Linked DNA regions of Homo sapiens: region 2 is linked to region 1. Evidence: fine-mapped expression QTL. Tissue or cell type: whole blood. Region 1 holds a variant in brackets; the other region holds the start of a gene. All regions are shown on one strand. Distances are between the middles of the regions.

The links. PIP is the estimated chance that this variant, and not a neighbour inherited with it, causes the effect.
Region 2: MAN2A2 starts here. The variant in region 1 is fine-mapped to the expression of MAN2A2 in whole blood (TOPMed, PIP above 0.99).

The regions. Positions count from the first base shown.
Region 1 is chr15:90,924,283-90,932,118 of GRCh38, forward strand. HDDC3 (HD domain containing 3) reads right to left here. Exons shown (of 4, transcript NM_001286451.2): 2 at 7,773-7,828; 3 at 7,422-7,662; 4 at 5,686-7,123. The coding sequence ends at 6,993. It also overlaps a transcript of UNC45A not described here. Among named protein-coding and RNA genes, the nearest start is that of HDDC3, 4.3 kb to the right of the region's middle. RefSeq lists enhancers at 5,575-5,804, 7,435-7,664. The variant G/A (reference allele first, on the strand shown) is at 4,032.
Region 2 is chr15:90,899,131-90,905,862 of GRCh38, forward strand. MAN2A2 (mannosidase alpha class 2A member 2) reads left to right here and starts at 4,172. Exons shown (of 23, transcript NM_006122.4): 1 at 4,172-4,302; 2 at 5,060-5,209; 3 at 6,121-6,378; 4 at 6,449-6,593; 5 at 6,715-6,732. The coding sequence starts at 5,078. RefSeq lists enhancers at 3,213-3,262, 5,103-5,162 and silencers at 3,433-3,702, 3,723-4,152.

The DNA of each region.
Region 1 (7,836 bases):
AGTTGGCTCCTGACTCCTGACATTCTGGCTCCTGACTTTGGACCTCCCTAGTTGAGAATAAACCTGAACTAAAAATCCATGTAGTTAGGTAGTCTGGGCACAGGAAACCAAAGTGGGGTTGGAGATGCGGACTCTGTCATTCTGAATGTGACAGAGTTGAAGATTTGAGACACAGCATTGAGTGTGGAGACCTAGAGAAGGCCCCTCAGTGGAGTAGGAAGGACTGGGGTTTCCCAGTCAGCATGCCTCCCGCAAGTTTGAATATTTGTGTCCCTCTCAAATTCATACTGAAACTTAACCTCCAATGCAGCATATTAAGAGGTGGGGCCTTTAGAAGGTGATTAGGTCATGAGAGCTTCTCCCTCGTGAATAGGATTAAGGCCCTAATGAAAGAGGCTTCACACAGCCTGCCTTTTTTACTGTGTGAGGATGCAGTGACCACCTTGGAAGCAAAAAGCAGCCCTCGCTAGACACCGAACCTGCCAGCACCTTCATCTTGGACTTCCTGCTTCTAGAACTGTGAGAAAACGAATTTCTGTTCTTTATAAATTACCCAGTCTCAGGTATTTTTGTCATAACAGCACAGACTAACATACCTAGAGACTTGCATTCCAACTAGAGGCGCAAGCACACCTATAATTCTGCCCTCTCAACTCCTAATGCCAGAGATTGCTAAATAAATACTAAAAATGTAAAAACAGGCCGGGCACAGCCCAGCACTTTGGGAGGCCGAGGCAGGCAGATCACCTGAGGTCAGGAGTTCCAGACCAGCCAGACCACCATGGCGAAACCCCATCTCTACTAAAAAATACAAAAATTAGCCGGGTGTGGTGGTGGGCGCCTGTAATCCCAGCTACTTGGGAGGCTGAGGCACGAGAATCACTTGAACCCAGGAGGCAGAGGTTGCAGTGAGCTGAGATCTTGCCATTGCACTCCAGCCTGGGCAACAGAGCAAGACTCCATCTCAAAAAAAAAAAAAAAAAAAAAAAAAAGAAAGCAAAAACTGTCAAACTCAAAATAAAGGAAATCTTCTTTGACAAAGAATGGAGAGAATAATACAGCCATTAGCAGAGGCTGAGGCTATACAGCTTGAGAGAAGTAGAGACTAGTTCAGGATGGTAGGTGCTGGGACTTCAAAGTCCACGTGGGACAGGTAACCAAGTGTAACCTAGGAACGTCAAGGGACCAGAACCAGACTCTGAGAGGTACACAGGCAGGAAAAATGTAAGTTGCAAACAAAAACAGGATGACATGCAAGCAATCTAAAAAAATACTTTAAAAAATATATATGTGCAATCACCAAAGAGCTAAAGATATTCAGTCTTGCAATGAGAAACTGACTGAAAAGAAGCAAATAAGATTTTACAAATTATACATGCTGGAAATGTAAAAATACAATTATTGAAATATACTCTATGTATGGTATAAGCCCTAGACTGGAGGCAGATGACATAAAAATTTAGCAGGTCTGGAAAACAACTGAGGAATCACCCAGAATGCACCACAGTGATAAAAGAAATATAAAAAAGAAGCTAAGACAGATGGAGGATAGACTGAGAAGCTTTGGCATAATGTTTCATAGCAGTTTTAGAAAAAAAGACTAGTGAGAATACAGGGATGAGAAAACAAAGACGGTGAATTTTTCAGAACTGAAGAAAGATGTGAGATCTCAGAATCAAAGAGCTCATTAAGTTCCAAGAAAGGTACATTTAAAAAAAAAGGCCAGGCCGGGTGCGGTGGCTCATGCCTGTAATCCCAGCACTTTGGGAGGCCGAGGCGGGTGGAACATGAGGTCAGGAGATCGAGACCATCCTGGCTAACATGGTGAGATCCCGTCACTACTAAAAAAATACAAAAAAATTAGCTGGGCCAGGTGGCAGGCGCCTGTAGTCCCAGCTACTCAGGAGGCTGAGGCAGGAGAATGGCGAGAACCCAGGAGGCAGAGGTTGCAGTGAGCCGAGATCGCACCACTGCACTCCAGCCTGGGTGACAGAGCAAGACTCCATCTCAAAAAAAATAGATAGCTGGGCGCGGTGGCTCACCCCTGTAATCCCAGCACTTTGGGAGGCCGAGGCGGGCGGATCATGGGGTCAGGAGATCGAGACCATCCTGGCTAACATGGTGAAACCTTGTCTCTACTAAAAGTACAAAAAATTAGCCGGGCATGGTGGCGGGCGCCTGTAGTCTCAGCTACTTGGGAGGCTGAGGCAGGAGAATGGCATGAACCCGGAGGCAGAGGTTTTAGTGAGCCGAGATCGCGCCACTGCACTCCAGCCTGGGCGACAGAGTGAGACTCCGTCTCAAAACAACAACAACAACAACAAACAAACAAATAAATAAATAAACAGGCCAGGTGCAGTGGCTCATGTCTATAATCCCAGTACTTTGGGAGGCCAACGTGGGCAGATCACTTGAGGTCAGGAGTTTGAGACTAGCCTGGCCAACGTGGTGAAACCCTGTCTCTACTAAAAATACAAAAAAACCCAAAAACCAGAAAAATCAAAATGTAGCGGGGCATGCTGGTGTGTGCCTATAGCCTGTAATCCCAGCTACTTGGAAGGCTGAGGCAGAAGAATCGCTTGAACCTGGGAGATGGAGGTTGCAAATAGCCAAGATCATGCCACTGCACTTCATCCTGAGCGACAGAGCACGACTCCGTCTCAAAAAAATTAAAACAATTTAAAAAACCTCGTGTAGATATATTGCAAATTACGTAAGATAAAACCTAAAGGCCAGGCACGGTGGCTCACGCCTGTAATTCCAGCACTTTGGGAGGCCAAGGTGGGTGGATCACCTGAGGTCAGGAGTTTGAGATCGGCCTGGCCCACATGGCAAAACCCTGTCTGTACTAAAAATACAAAAATTAGCTGGGCTGGTGGCATGCGCCTGTAGTCAAAGCTACTCAGGAGGCTGAGGCAGAAGAATAGCTTAAACCAGGGAGGTGGAGGTTGCAGTTAGCTGAGATCATGCCACTGCACTCCAGCCTTGGCAATAGAGTGAGTGGGATTCACTCTCAAAAGAGAAAGGCAAATATAAGAACTTATTGAGAAACTGCAGGAATGAATATAACCTGTTGTACAACCATGGTTTAACTGTAGATTTTTAGCCTAGCTTTTTTTTTTTTTTTTTTTTTTTTGAGACGGAGTCTAGCTCTGTCGCCCAAGCTGGAGTGCAGTGGCGTGATCTCGGCTCACTGCAACCTCTGCCTCCCAGGTTCAAGTGATTCTCCTGCCTCAGCCTCCCAAGTAGCTGGGACTAAAGGCGCCCGCCACCACGCCTGGCTAATTTTTTGTAGTTTTAGTAGAGACAGGGTTTCACCGTGTTAGCCAGGATGGTCTTGATCTCCTGACCTCATGATCCACCCGCCTCGGCCTCCCAAAGTGTTGGGATTACAGGCGTGAGCCACCACACTGGCCTTTTTTTTTTTTTTTTTTTTTGAGACGGAGTCTTGCTCTGTCTCCCAGGCTGGAGTGCAGTGGCATGACCTTGGCTCACTGCAACCTCCGCCTCCTGGGTTCAAGTGATTCTCCTGCCTCAGCCTCCCGAGTAGCTGGGACTACAGGTGCCCGCCACCATGCCCGGCTAATTTTTTTGTATTTTTAGTAGAGACGGGGTTTCACCATGTTAGCCAGGATGGTCTCGATCTCCTGACTTCGTGATCCACCCGCCTGGGCCTCCCAAATTGCTGGGATTACAGGCGTGAGCCTCTGCACCCAGCCTGCCTAGTGTGTTTCTTTGGAACTTATCAAAATGTCTCTGGAGGCCGGGCACGATGGCTTCATGCCTGTAATCCCAGCACTTTGGGAGGCCAAGGCAGGCGGATAACTTGAGGTCAGGAGTTTGAGACCAGCCTGGCCAGCATGGTGAAACCCTGTCTCTACTAGAAATACAAAAATTAGCCGGGCGTGGTGGCACACATCTGTAATCCCAGCTACTAGGGAGGCTGTGGCATAAGAATCGCTTGAACCCAGGAGGCAGAGGTTGCAGTGAGCCGAGATTGCGCCACTGTACTCCAGCCTGGGTGACAGAGC[G/A]AGAATCCATCTTAAAAAAAAAAAAAGGCTCTGGAACATTTCATTTCCTGTTTTGTTACTGACCTGTGACTCTGTAAAAGTCTACTTTCGCAATTTGGATTAATAATTTTATGAATGCAAATTGGAGATGCTGTTCAAAAAAAAAAAAATAGAAAAGTCTTACAAAGGAAAGACAATCACAGTGATAGCAGACATCTAGTTAGCTACAGTAGACACCTGGAGTCCATTCAAACCTAGAGAAAACTCAGCCTTGAATTTGCTATCAGCTACACCATTCAAGAGCACGGGGGAAATGAAGACATTTTCAGACATGCAAAGACTCAACAGTTTGCAATGTACAAAACTTTAGTGGAAGAAAGTAGGTGTACTTAAGCAAAAAGAGAATTTGTCTAGGGGCATAAACTAATGAGAGGGAGGGTACACCTAAATACTGGCTATAAATGTAATACTAGTTTATAGTTTAAAAAGAGGCAGGAACTAAAATTCTAGAAAGCAATATTGTGAAGAGTTATTCAAGGCTGGGCACAGTGGCTCACGCCTGTAATCCCAGCACTTTGGGAGGCTGAGGTGGGCAGATCACCTGAGGTCAGGAGTTCGAGACCAGTGTGGCCAACTTAGTGGAACGCCATCTCTACTAAAAAATAAAAAATAAAAAAATCCAAAAACAGGTACTAAGAGGACAGACCTTGCATCAAATGGTGCTAGGAAAACTGGACATCCACAAGCAAAACCATACATCATATATTTTGTATATGGTGTATATACAAAAAAATTACACCATATACAAAAATTAACCCAAAATGTTCTTGCCACAAAAACAACAAAAAATTGGGTAACTACGTGAAATGATGGATGTGTTAATTTGCTTCACTATAGTAACCTTTTTACTACCTGTATGTAGCCTCATAACATCATGTATACCTTATACCAAATTAAATTGATTTAAAAAGAAATTTAACCCAAAATGGATCAAAAACTTTACTTGTAAGAGCTAAAACGATAACTTTGGGAGGCCAAGGCGGGTGGATCACCTGAAGTCAGGAGTTAAAGACCAGCCTGGGCAGCAAGGATAAATCCCGTCACTACTAAAAATACAACAATTAGCCATGCGTGGTGGCGCACGCCTGTTATCCCAGCTACTCGGGAGACTGAGGCAGGAGAATAGCTTGAACCCGGGAAGCGGAGGTTATGGTGAGCAGAGATGGCACCATTGCACTCCAGCCTGGGCAACAAGAGTGAAACTCCGTCTCAAAAAAAAAAGCTAAAACGAAAGCTCCTAGAAGAAAACAGGAAAAGCTTCATGGCATTAGATTTGGCAACGATTTCTTAGATATGACACTAAAAACACAGGCAACAAAATATATAAAGTGGACTACAACAAAGTCATCTTTTCTTAAAAAAATCTCGTTATCTTACTCCCGCAAAACTATTTAAAAAAATTAAGTTCAAAGTTCTCCAAAATGTACCATACCCTGGGGATTACTCTGAACTTTGTTCATTTGTTTTCTTTTAATTCGGCTTTTTTGGTTGCCTTTCACCTACTTTTTCGCAGAGCCCTCCGCTGGGGCCTTCACTTGGGCAAACAACTATCGTAGTCGAACAGCTTTGACCTAACAATTTCCTCGTACCCAAGATGATCGCTTTTCCAGACAACTTAATAAACTTTGGCTTTAATGGATGACTGGATGCAGAATAAAATACATAAAAATAAACCTCAGCTGCTCAGCAACGACTGAAAAACCACCACCGGGCAATCCCTCCCCATGGCCACCGAGCAAAGTTCCACCGCCTCCCCTACGCCGACCGCCGGGCTCCCGGGGTCGGACAGCCCCGGGCCACTTCCGGGCCTTCCCGGAAGTCCCTGTCACTTAACAACCGAAGTAACCCGCAATGCGGAAGGGCGAGGGGATTGCGAGTCACCGAGTTTCCCGCGCGGCTTGAGGTACTGGGGAACCGGAATCCCCCACCGGCCCAATCATGTTGCTGCTGGGGTCTCTCCGGTGCCCAGCAGTGGTTGTCAGTAAGCGGGCGGCACTCCCTTCCGATACGTCTTTTCTTTTTTCATTTTTGAGACGGAGTCTCGCTGTGTCACCCAAGCTGGAGTGCAGTGGCGCGATCTCGGCTCAGTACAAACTCCGCCTCCCGGGTTCAAGCGAGTCTCCTGCCTCAGCCTCCTGAGTAGCTGGGATTACAGGCGCGAGCCACTGCGCCCGGCTAATTTTTTTTTGTATTTTTAGTAGAGACGGGGCCTCGCCATGCTGGCCAGGCTGGTCTTGAACTCCTGACCTCAAGTGATCCGCCCGCCTCGGTCTCCCAGAGTGCTGGGATTACAGGCGAGAGACACCGCGCCTGGCCCCCTTCCAACTTTCTTAACGGGAAAGGCTGCTACCATTTCTTGAGCACCTATGTGTCAGGCTCCATCAGGCACGTCACAGTCTAACCTGATAATTACACAACCCATGTCACTGACAAGGAAGCCAGGTTCGGAGGGGTTGAGGCCCGCAACCTGAGGGAGGTGACTCCGGGACACACAATTAGTCCTGCTTTGCTGAAGGAAAGATATGCAGCCCACCAGTCGGAGGCTGGAGAAGGAGCAGCAGCAGCTTAAACCTTAACCCAGAGTTATTTTTATTTTCCAGAACGTGTTAGGAACTAGTACTTAAATAATCTCAAGTCCCTGAGGGGCCAGAGATCCCACCATGCAAAATAGCAAACAGACCCAAGACTTGGGGAGAGGCGGTGAGTGCATCAGAAATGGATGGGTACATCTGATTCCCACCACGCGGGGCTCAGCTTAGTTAGCAGGAGACCTTCAGACTGAGAAAAAATGCAAGTCTTTTTTTGGCCTCTAATATCTGGGAAGGATGGAGGGAGCTCAGGAGACACAGAAAAGATGGCGTATGAATCCTGTCCGGCCTGAACGAGGCTGGAGTTGTGCCTCTGGATAGCTTCAAGCACTGATCAGATTGTCAGCCCCCGCTGCTTGAACAGATGCTTTAGAGCCTCTTCCAGTTGCCGGTTTGTTCCCTGAAGCCCCTTCACCACCTGCGCTGCCCACTCGAAGTATTCCTGGACTCGATGTTCTGACCATCCTGCATAAGAGTCGACAGAAACTTGCTAGCGTGATGTCAAGGAAAGCACTGCCTTTTCCCCACTTCCTGGCAAGCTTGGTTCAAGGCCATGAGTTCCTGATGGAATGAGCTGTCCTGAAAACTTCCCCTTGGCCCAGCTATTGTATTTTTACTGTATGAAAGAAGATCAAAGAGTGGTCCAGTAGGATTAATTTGGGAATTAAGAATGCCCAGGGTTTTTCAGGGGAACTGACCAACATGTGTCTTCAGAAGGCGGCATCCCCCTCCCTTTTCCCTTACAGCCCATACGAAAGCGTACCCTCTGGGGTGCAGCGATTCAGGTCCCTCAGATTGTACAGCTTGTCTGCCAGCTTCACCAGTTTGGCCCCGGGGCTACTGTGGGGCGCTTGCTCCACCTGCAGCCTCTTTCTCTCCAGCTTGGGCAGAGTCTTGTCATCTGTTACCTCCTCCACCAGGCGCCGCACTTGTGCCCCAAAGTGTAGCTCCACCTCATCCAGGGTGGTGTCTGTGTCCTCCACCGTGTCATGGAGCAGGGCCGCCTGGGGACAAGTTCCCACTCAGCCCTGAGATGTCAGCCAAGGGTTGCCCATTGCTGAATGGGGCCCCTAATCCCCATCCCAGGCTCCTGGCAGAGAAGGGGGAAAGTTACCTGTAACACCACAATGTCAGTGATTCCCGCCTCGTGGGTCAGGATCCGTGCCACACCTGACGGG
Region 2 (6,732 bases), 26 kb before region 1:
GCACATGCCTGTAGTCCCAGCTACTCAGGAGGCCAAGGCATGAGAATCACTTGAACCCAGGAGGCGGAGGTTGCAGTAAACTGAGATCGCACCACTGCACTCCAGCTTGGGTGACAGCAAGACTGTCTCAAAAAAAAAAAAAAAAAGTCATACTGAGTAAAGAAGCCAGACATGAAAAGAGTTCATACTTATGATTCTATTTTATGAAGTTCAAGAACAGGCAAAACTAAGTTACAGAGAAGTCAAAGCAGTGCTTATGTCTGGAGGGTCCTGATGGAAAGGCGTGTGAAGATGGAGGGGAAAAGGTTCACCATGGTGCCCTTACAACCATGTGTGTCTCTACATGGGCCACATAGGCAAGGCTGGACCACAGTCTGACAGCCACTATGGTGTGCTTAGGGACTGCTTGGCCACTTAACACGGGAACATTTTGGGTAGATGGGAATGTCCTGCATTTTGATCTGGGTGGTGATTATGCTTGTGTATGTATTTATCAAAACCCATCAAGCTGTACACTTAAGATTTGTGCCACACAGTGTAAACTGTACCTAAATTTTTAAAAAAGAACCACCAGACAACAAACAAGAATTCTTGAAAATTGAGATTATCAGGCTGGGCGCGGTGGCTCATGCCTGTAATCCCAGCACTTTGGGAGGCTGAGGTGGGCAGATCACCTGAGGTTGGGAGTTCGAGACGAGTCCAACCAACATGGAGAAACCCTATCCCTACTAAAAATACCAAATTAGCCAGGCGTGGTGGCAGATGCCTGTAATCCCAGCTACTCAGGAGGCTGAGGCAAGAGAATCACTCGAATCCAGAGGCAGAGGTTGTGGTGAGTGGAGATCACGCCATTGCACTCCAGCCTGGGCAACAAGAGCAGAACTCCCTCTCAAAACGAAGGAAAAAAGAAGATTATCACCAAAATGAGGCTGAGCACGGTGGCTCACGCCTGTAATCCCAACACTTTGGGAGGCCGAGGTGGGCAAATCACCTGAGGTCAGGAGTTCAAGACCAGCCTGGCCAACATGGTGAAACCCCATCTCTACTAAAAATACAAAAATTAGCTGGGCATGGTGGTGCGCGCTTCTAATCCCAGCTACTCGGGAGGCTGAAGCACAAGAATCACTTGAACCTGGGAAGCAGAGGTTGCAGTGAGCTGAGATCACGCCACCACTCTTCAGCCTGAGCGACAGAGTGAGACTTTGTCTCAAAAAAAAAAAAAAAAAAAAAAAAATTACCAAAATGGAAAATTCAATAGAAGGGCTGGAAAATAAATCTCCCAGAACACAAGGCAAAATATGAAAAGACAAAGAGGATGATGAGCCCAGTCTAGGTCTAACACCCTAATAACAGGCATTCCAGTGAGTAAACAAACCTGGAAAGCTGTTCCTGATGGTGATAAAAGAAGTGGCAGTCGAGTGCAGTGGCTTATCCCTGTAATCACAGCACTTTGGGAAGCTGAGGCAGGAGGATCAAGGCCAGGAGTTCGAGGCTGCAGTGAACCATGATCACACCACTGCACTCCAGCCTGGGTGACAGACAAGAGCTTGTCAAAAACAATAAAAAAATAAAAAGAGCTGGGCACTATGGCTCATATCTGTAATCCTGGAACTTTGGAAGGCCAAAGTGGGGGGATCGCTTGAGCCCAGGAGTTGGAGAACAGCCTGGGCAACACAGTGAGACCCTCCCACCCACCACAAAAAATAAAAAAATTAGGGCCGGGCACAGTGACTCACGCCTGTAATCCCAGCACTTTGGGAGGCTGAGGCAGGTGGATCACCTGAGGTCAGGAGTTCGAGACCAGCCTGGACAACATGGTAAAACCCCATCTCTACTAAAAACACAAAATTAGCCAGGTATGGTGGCACGTGCCTGTAGTCCCAGCTATTTGGGAGGCTGAGGCAGGAGAATCGCTTGAACCTGGGAGGCGGAGGTTGCAGTGAGCCAAGATCGCGCCATTGCACTCCAGCCTGGGCAACAAGAACGAAACTCCGTCTCAAAAAATAAAAATAAAAAAATTAAAAAATAAAAAAATTAGCTGGGTGTAGTGGCACATACCTGTAAGGCTCAGCTACTCAGGAGGCTGAAGTGGGAGGATGGCTTGAGTCTGGAAGGTCAAAGATGCAGTGAGCTGAGATGGTGCCACTGCACTCCAGCCTGGGAAACAGTGAGATATTGTCTCAAAAAAAAGAAATGGTCGTTAAATAAGAGATAGCATTGATCATTCTCAGCAAACTAACACAGGAACAGAAAACCAAACACCGCATGTTCTCACTAATAAGTGGGAGTTAACAATGAAAACACATGGACACAGAGAGGGGAACATCACACACCGGGGCCTGTCGGGGGTTGGGGGCAAGGTGAGGGAGAGCACCTAATGTATGTGGGGCTTAAAACCTAGATGATGGGTTGATGGGTGCAGCAAACCACCATGGCACATGTATACCTATGTAACAAATCTGCATGTTCTGCACATGTATCCCAGAACTTAAAGGAAAATTTTTAAAAATGAGATGGCATTATATATCTCATTAATCAGCTAAAACATTGTTTAAGCAATATCCAGCAGTTTGTTATTGATGGTGTAAACTGGTACAGTCTTTTGGGGGAGCGATAGTGTCATCAGTCATCTCTGTCCTTATCTTTTGCCCGGGTAACTTCACTGTTGCAAATTCATCATAAAATAACGTCTTAATCTGTTCGGGCTGTTAGGACAAAATACCATAAAGTAGGTAGTTTATCAACAACAGAAATGTATTTTCTCACAGTTCTGGAGGCTGGAAAGTCCATGATAAGGCATAAGCGGATTCAGTGTCGGGTGAGGGCCTGCCTGTGGTGCACAGATAGTGCCTTCTAGCTGTGTTCTCACGTGGTTGAAGGGGCCGACTCTCGGGGTCATTTGATACCGGCACTAATCCCATTCATGAGAGCTCTCCCTTCAAACTCTGTTCACCCCCAAAGGCCCATCTCCTAATACCATCATCACCTTGAGGGATTAGGATTTGAACATGAATTTGGGGGGTCACATTCAGATAATGTTATATATAACTTAAAAAGAACAAAAATGTGGAATTCATGGAGATGTTCATTGCAGTATGGATTACACTGAAAAACTGTAAACAACCTAGATGCCCAGTAAAAGGGAAACAGCCAAGAAAAGTCTGTGTCTTGTTCACTCGCTGGCAGGAAACATAGAGCAGGCACGGAAAGGAAAGGGACTCGAGGAATGCGCTGTACCGACAGGAGGCAGCACCCCTTTGCCCGAGGGGCGCAACGACAGAGACCTAAGGCTACCTGGGCCGGAGCCGGGTGAGGCCGCGGAGAACGCACCCCGCTACGCGTCTGCCGAGACGGAGGCGGGCGTTTCGACCACTGCCCGATCATGCGCTTACTCAAGTAGGATTCCGAAAAAATTCAGTCGCGCGTCCCTCCTGAGGTTCCGCAGCTGGCCAGGCCCGGCCCGGGCTGGTGCGGCTGCGCACTGCAGCCCAGCGGAGCGGGCCCGGGAGGAGCCGGGCGGGGACCGCGGCGGCCAGAGCTCCTGTCAGCTCCGCCGGGCACACGCAGGCCGGGGCGGGCGGCGCGGCTGTCCCCGCCCCGCACGCTGCTGGGCCCGGCAGCTTCAGAGGCTGGCGGACCCGCGCGGGGCCGGCGCAGCGGAGCGCGCCGGCGGCCCGGGGCCCAGCGGGAGCGCGGCAGCGGCGCGCGGAGCAGGGGGCTACGGGTGGGCGGGCGCCCGCCTTCGCCTGCGTCGCTGCCTGCACGCGGGCCGCCGTCCCCGGGCGTGTGAGAGCCGGCAGCTCGGCCGACTGGGCCCGGAGCGGCGCGGAGGCCGGGCGCTGACGGTAACGGGCCGGGTGCGCGCGCGGGAGGGCTCCGGCTGCCCCGACAGAGGCCGGGCTCGGGCGGCGGGAGTGCGAGCGCCACTGCGGCGTCAGAGGGGCCAGGAAGGGACAGGAGGCTGCCTGAGGCCCGTACCTGGCGCCTGTCTCTGCGGTCCCCGGGGCCGACGAAGTCGGAGCGGGTGGGGAGGGAGCCGGGCGGGCGGCCAGAGACCTGGCGGCAGGTGCCTGCCCTCTGTGATCCAACTCTCTCCCCAGCTCCACCCACATTGGCCTAGACCCAGTCTCTAAGGGCTGAAAATATTGCCCGGAAGCTCCCGAGCAGAATCAGATCGCGCTAAGTAGGGCACAACGCAGAGGCGACAAAGCTCCTCGGCCCCAGGGCCCGCGGAGCAGACTCCGGAGCGCGGTCCCGCCCACGCTCGGCTCCGCAGTTAGCGTCCTCCTTCCTCCTGAGCAGGCAAGCGGAGCCCGAGGGCGGTGGCGGCGGGGGGCACGGGTCCCCTGAAGTTGCCTCGCAGCTGAGCACTGGGCCCCGTCTCTCCCTTCCCAGGGGGCCTTCGGCGTCACTGCAGGCTTCCTAGGGGTCCCCTAAGTGCTCTGCAAACCGCGGCTGGAAGTTTCCCACTGCAGTGAACAGTAGAGAAACAGGGAGAACACACAGGGCTTGCTTTATGCTAGAAACACAAGCATCTTTCTTCTTTATTAGAAAGAAACTCATTCTGTGTTTCTGAGAAAGGATCGTGCCAGGCACTGTTTCTGGTGAGTGCCAGTTTGACCCGAAAGGGCACTGAGAAAGGCTTTCCTATCAGTCTCTTTGGGTTCTGGCTAAACTTTTAAATCAAACAAAATAGAGACTAGCTTATTCACCTGAAACTAGAAGCACATGGCCGAGGAGCCTGAACAGGCACCTCCTATCTAGGCAGGGAAGCTGTGTAATCAGGAGCTTGTGTGGTGCGCTCCAGTCGGAGCTGGGACTCTTATCCTGGGCCCGTTTTTCATAGCACCAGCCAAAGGAGAGCGTCCTCTCCACCCTAGCGGCAGAGCTGCTACCAGGACCAGGTGGGCCAGCCTCAGATGTGCTGCTTGTGCTACTTGGAGCCAGGCAAATGGGTGTTCCTTTGGAACAGCCCTCAGGAACTCACTGGGGTATTTGGTGGAAAGACTGCCACGGGCATTTTGCATGTTGGAGCTACAGATGGTGTCCTTCCTGCCAGGTGTGTGTGGAGGCCAGTATGAAGCTGAAAAAGCAGGTGACAGTGTGTGGGGCTGCCATCTTCTGTGTGGCAGTCTTCTCGCTCTACCTCATGCTGGACCGAGTGCAACACGATCCCACCCGACACCAGAATGGTGGGAACTTCCCCCGGGTGAGTCGTGCCTGGTTGCTAATTTCTTTGTATACAAGTCACCTGGGCTCAGGGTATGCACCTCCCACCCCGCCGCCTCCCCTCCCACCCCCCGCTGGAGGGTAATGTCAGTACAGGACAGGAGCCTTCCTTCCCAATAGTCAGGTTTTGTAGAAACCCTCAGCTAAAAACAGTGATGGCGAAAAGAAGGAAGGAAGAAAAAATGTCAATGGCAATGAGTATTGTCACTCTGTTCTCCTGAATTCTTTTCTTTCTTTTTTTTTTTTTTGAGACAGAGTCTCGCTCTGTCGCCCAGCCTTGAGTGCAGTGGCGCGATCTTGGCTCACTGCAACCTCCGCCTCCCAGGTTCAAGCAATTCTCCTGCCTCAGCCTCCCAAGTAGCTGGGACTACAGGAGCCTGCCACCATGCCCGACTAATTTTTGTATTTTTAGTAGAGACGAGACGAGGTATCGCCATGTTGGCCAGGCTGGTCTTGAACTCCTGACCTCAGGTGATCCACCCACCTTGGCCTCCCAAAGTGCTGGGATTACAGGTGTGGGCCACCGCGCCCAGCCCCTCCTGAATTCTTGGCAGACATTGCTAATTGATTGCAGCATTCTTTGCCATTAAGCCCCGCTGAAATCCTCAGCACAGGCAACACCGATTGTTGAGAATAGGTAGGTGAAAGGAAATCTTTGCCATCCCTGAGCTAGAGAGTGATGGTTCTCCCAACCCAAGTGGAGTGTAGTCCTCAGTGGTGATCTGCACAGCTCCCTTTATCTGAACGGTGTCATCTATCCCTCTAGGCTCATGGTCTGGCTTTGACTGATGAGGGAAGAATTGTACTCAGGCCTCAGCTGGTAGACCCCAAGCAGAGACCCTCCCTGTGGCATAAGGAGCTGTGTGTGATTGCTTTCTGGTTTTTTGGCAGAGCCAAATTTCTGTGCTGCAGAACCGCATTGAGCAGCTGGAGCAGCTTTTGGAGGAGAACCATGAGATTATCAGCCATATCAAGGACTCCGTGCTGGAGCTGACAGCCAACGCAGAGGGCCCGCCCGCCATGCTGCCCTACTACACGGTCAATGGCTCCTGGGTGGTGCCACCGGAGCCCCGGCCCAGCTTCTTCTCCATCTCCCCGCAGGACTGCCAGTTTGCTTTGGGGGGCCGGGGTCAGAAGCCAGAGCTGCAGGTAAGAGTCAGAGCTGGCAGGGACGTACAGTGGCCACGACTGGGGTACTGAGCTGCAGTTCACCTGGCAGATGCTCACTGTGTCGGAGGAGCTGCCGTTTGACAACGTGGATGGTGGTGTGTGGAGGCAAGGCTTCGACATCTCCTACGACCCGCACGACTGGGATGCTGAAGACCTGCAGGTGTTTGTGGTGCCCCACTCTCACAATGACCCAGGTGAGGGCCCTGCAGACTCCTGGGAGCTGGAGTGTGGAGTGGGATTTCTGATGGCCAATACAAGGGAGGGACGTCGAAGAAGATGGTGGCATCCTCAGGGGACCCTACATTGGCTCCCTAGGCTGGATCAAGACCTTTG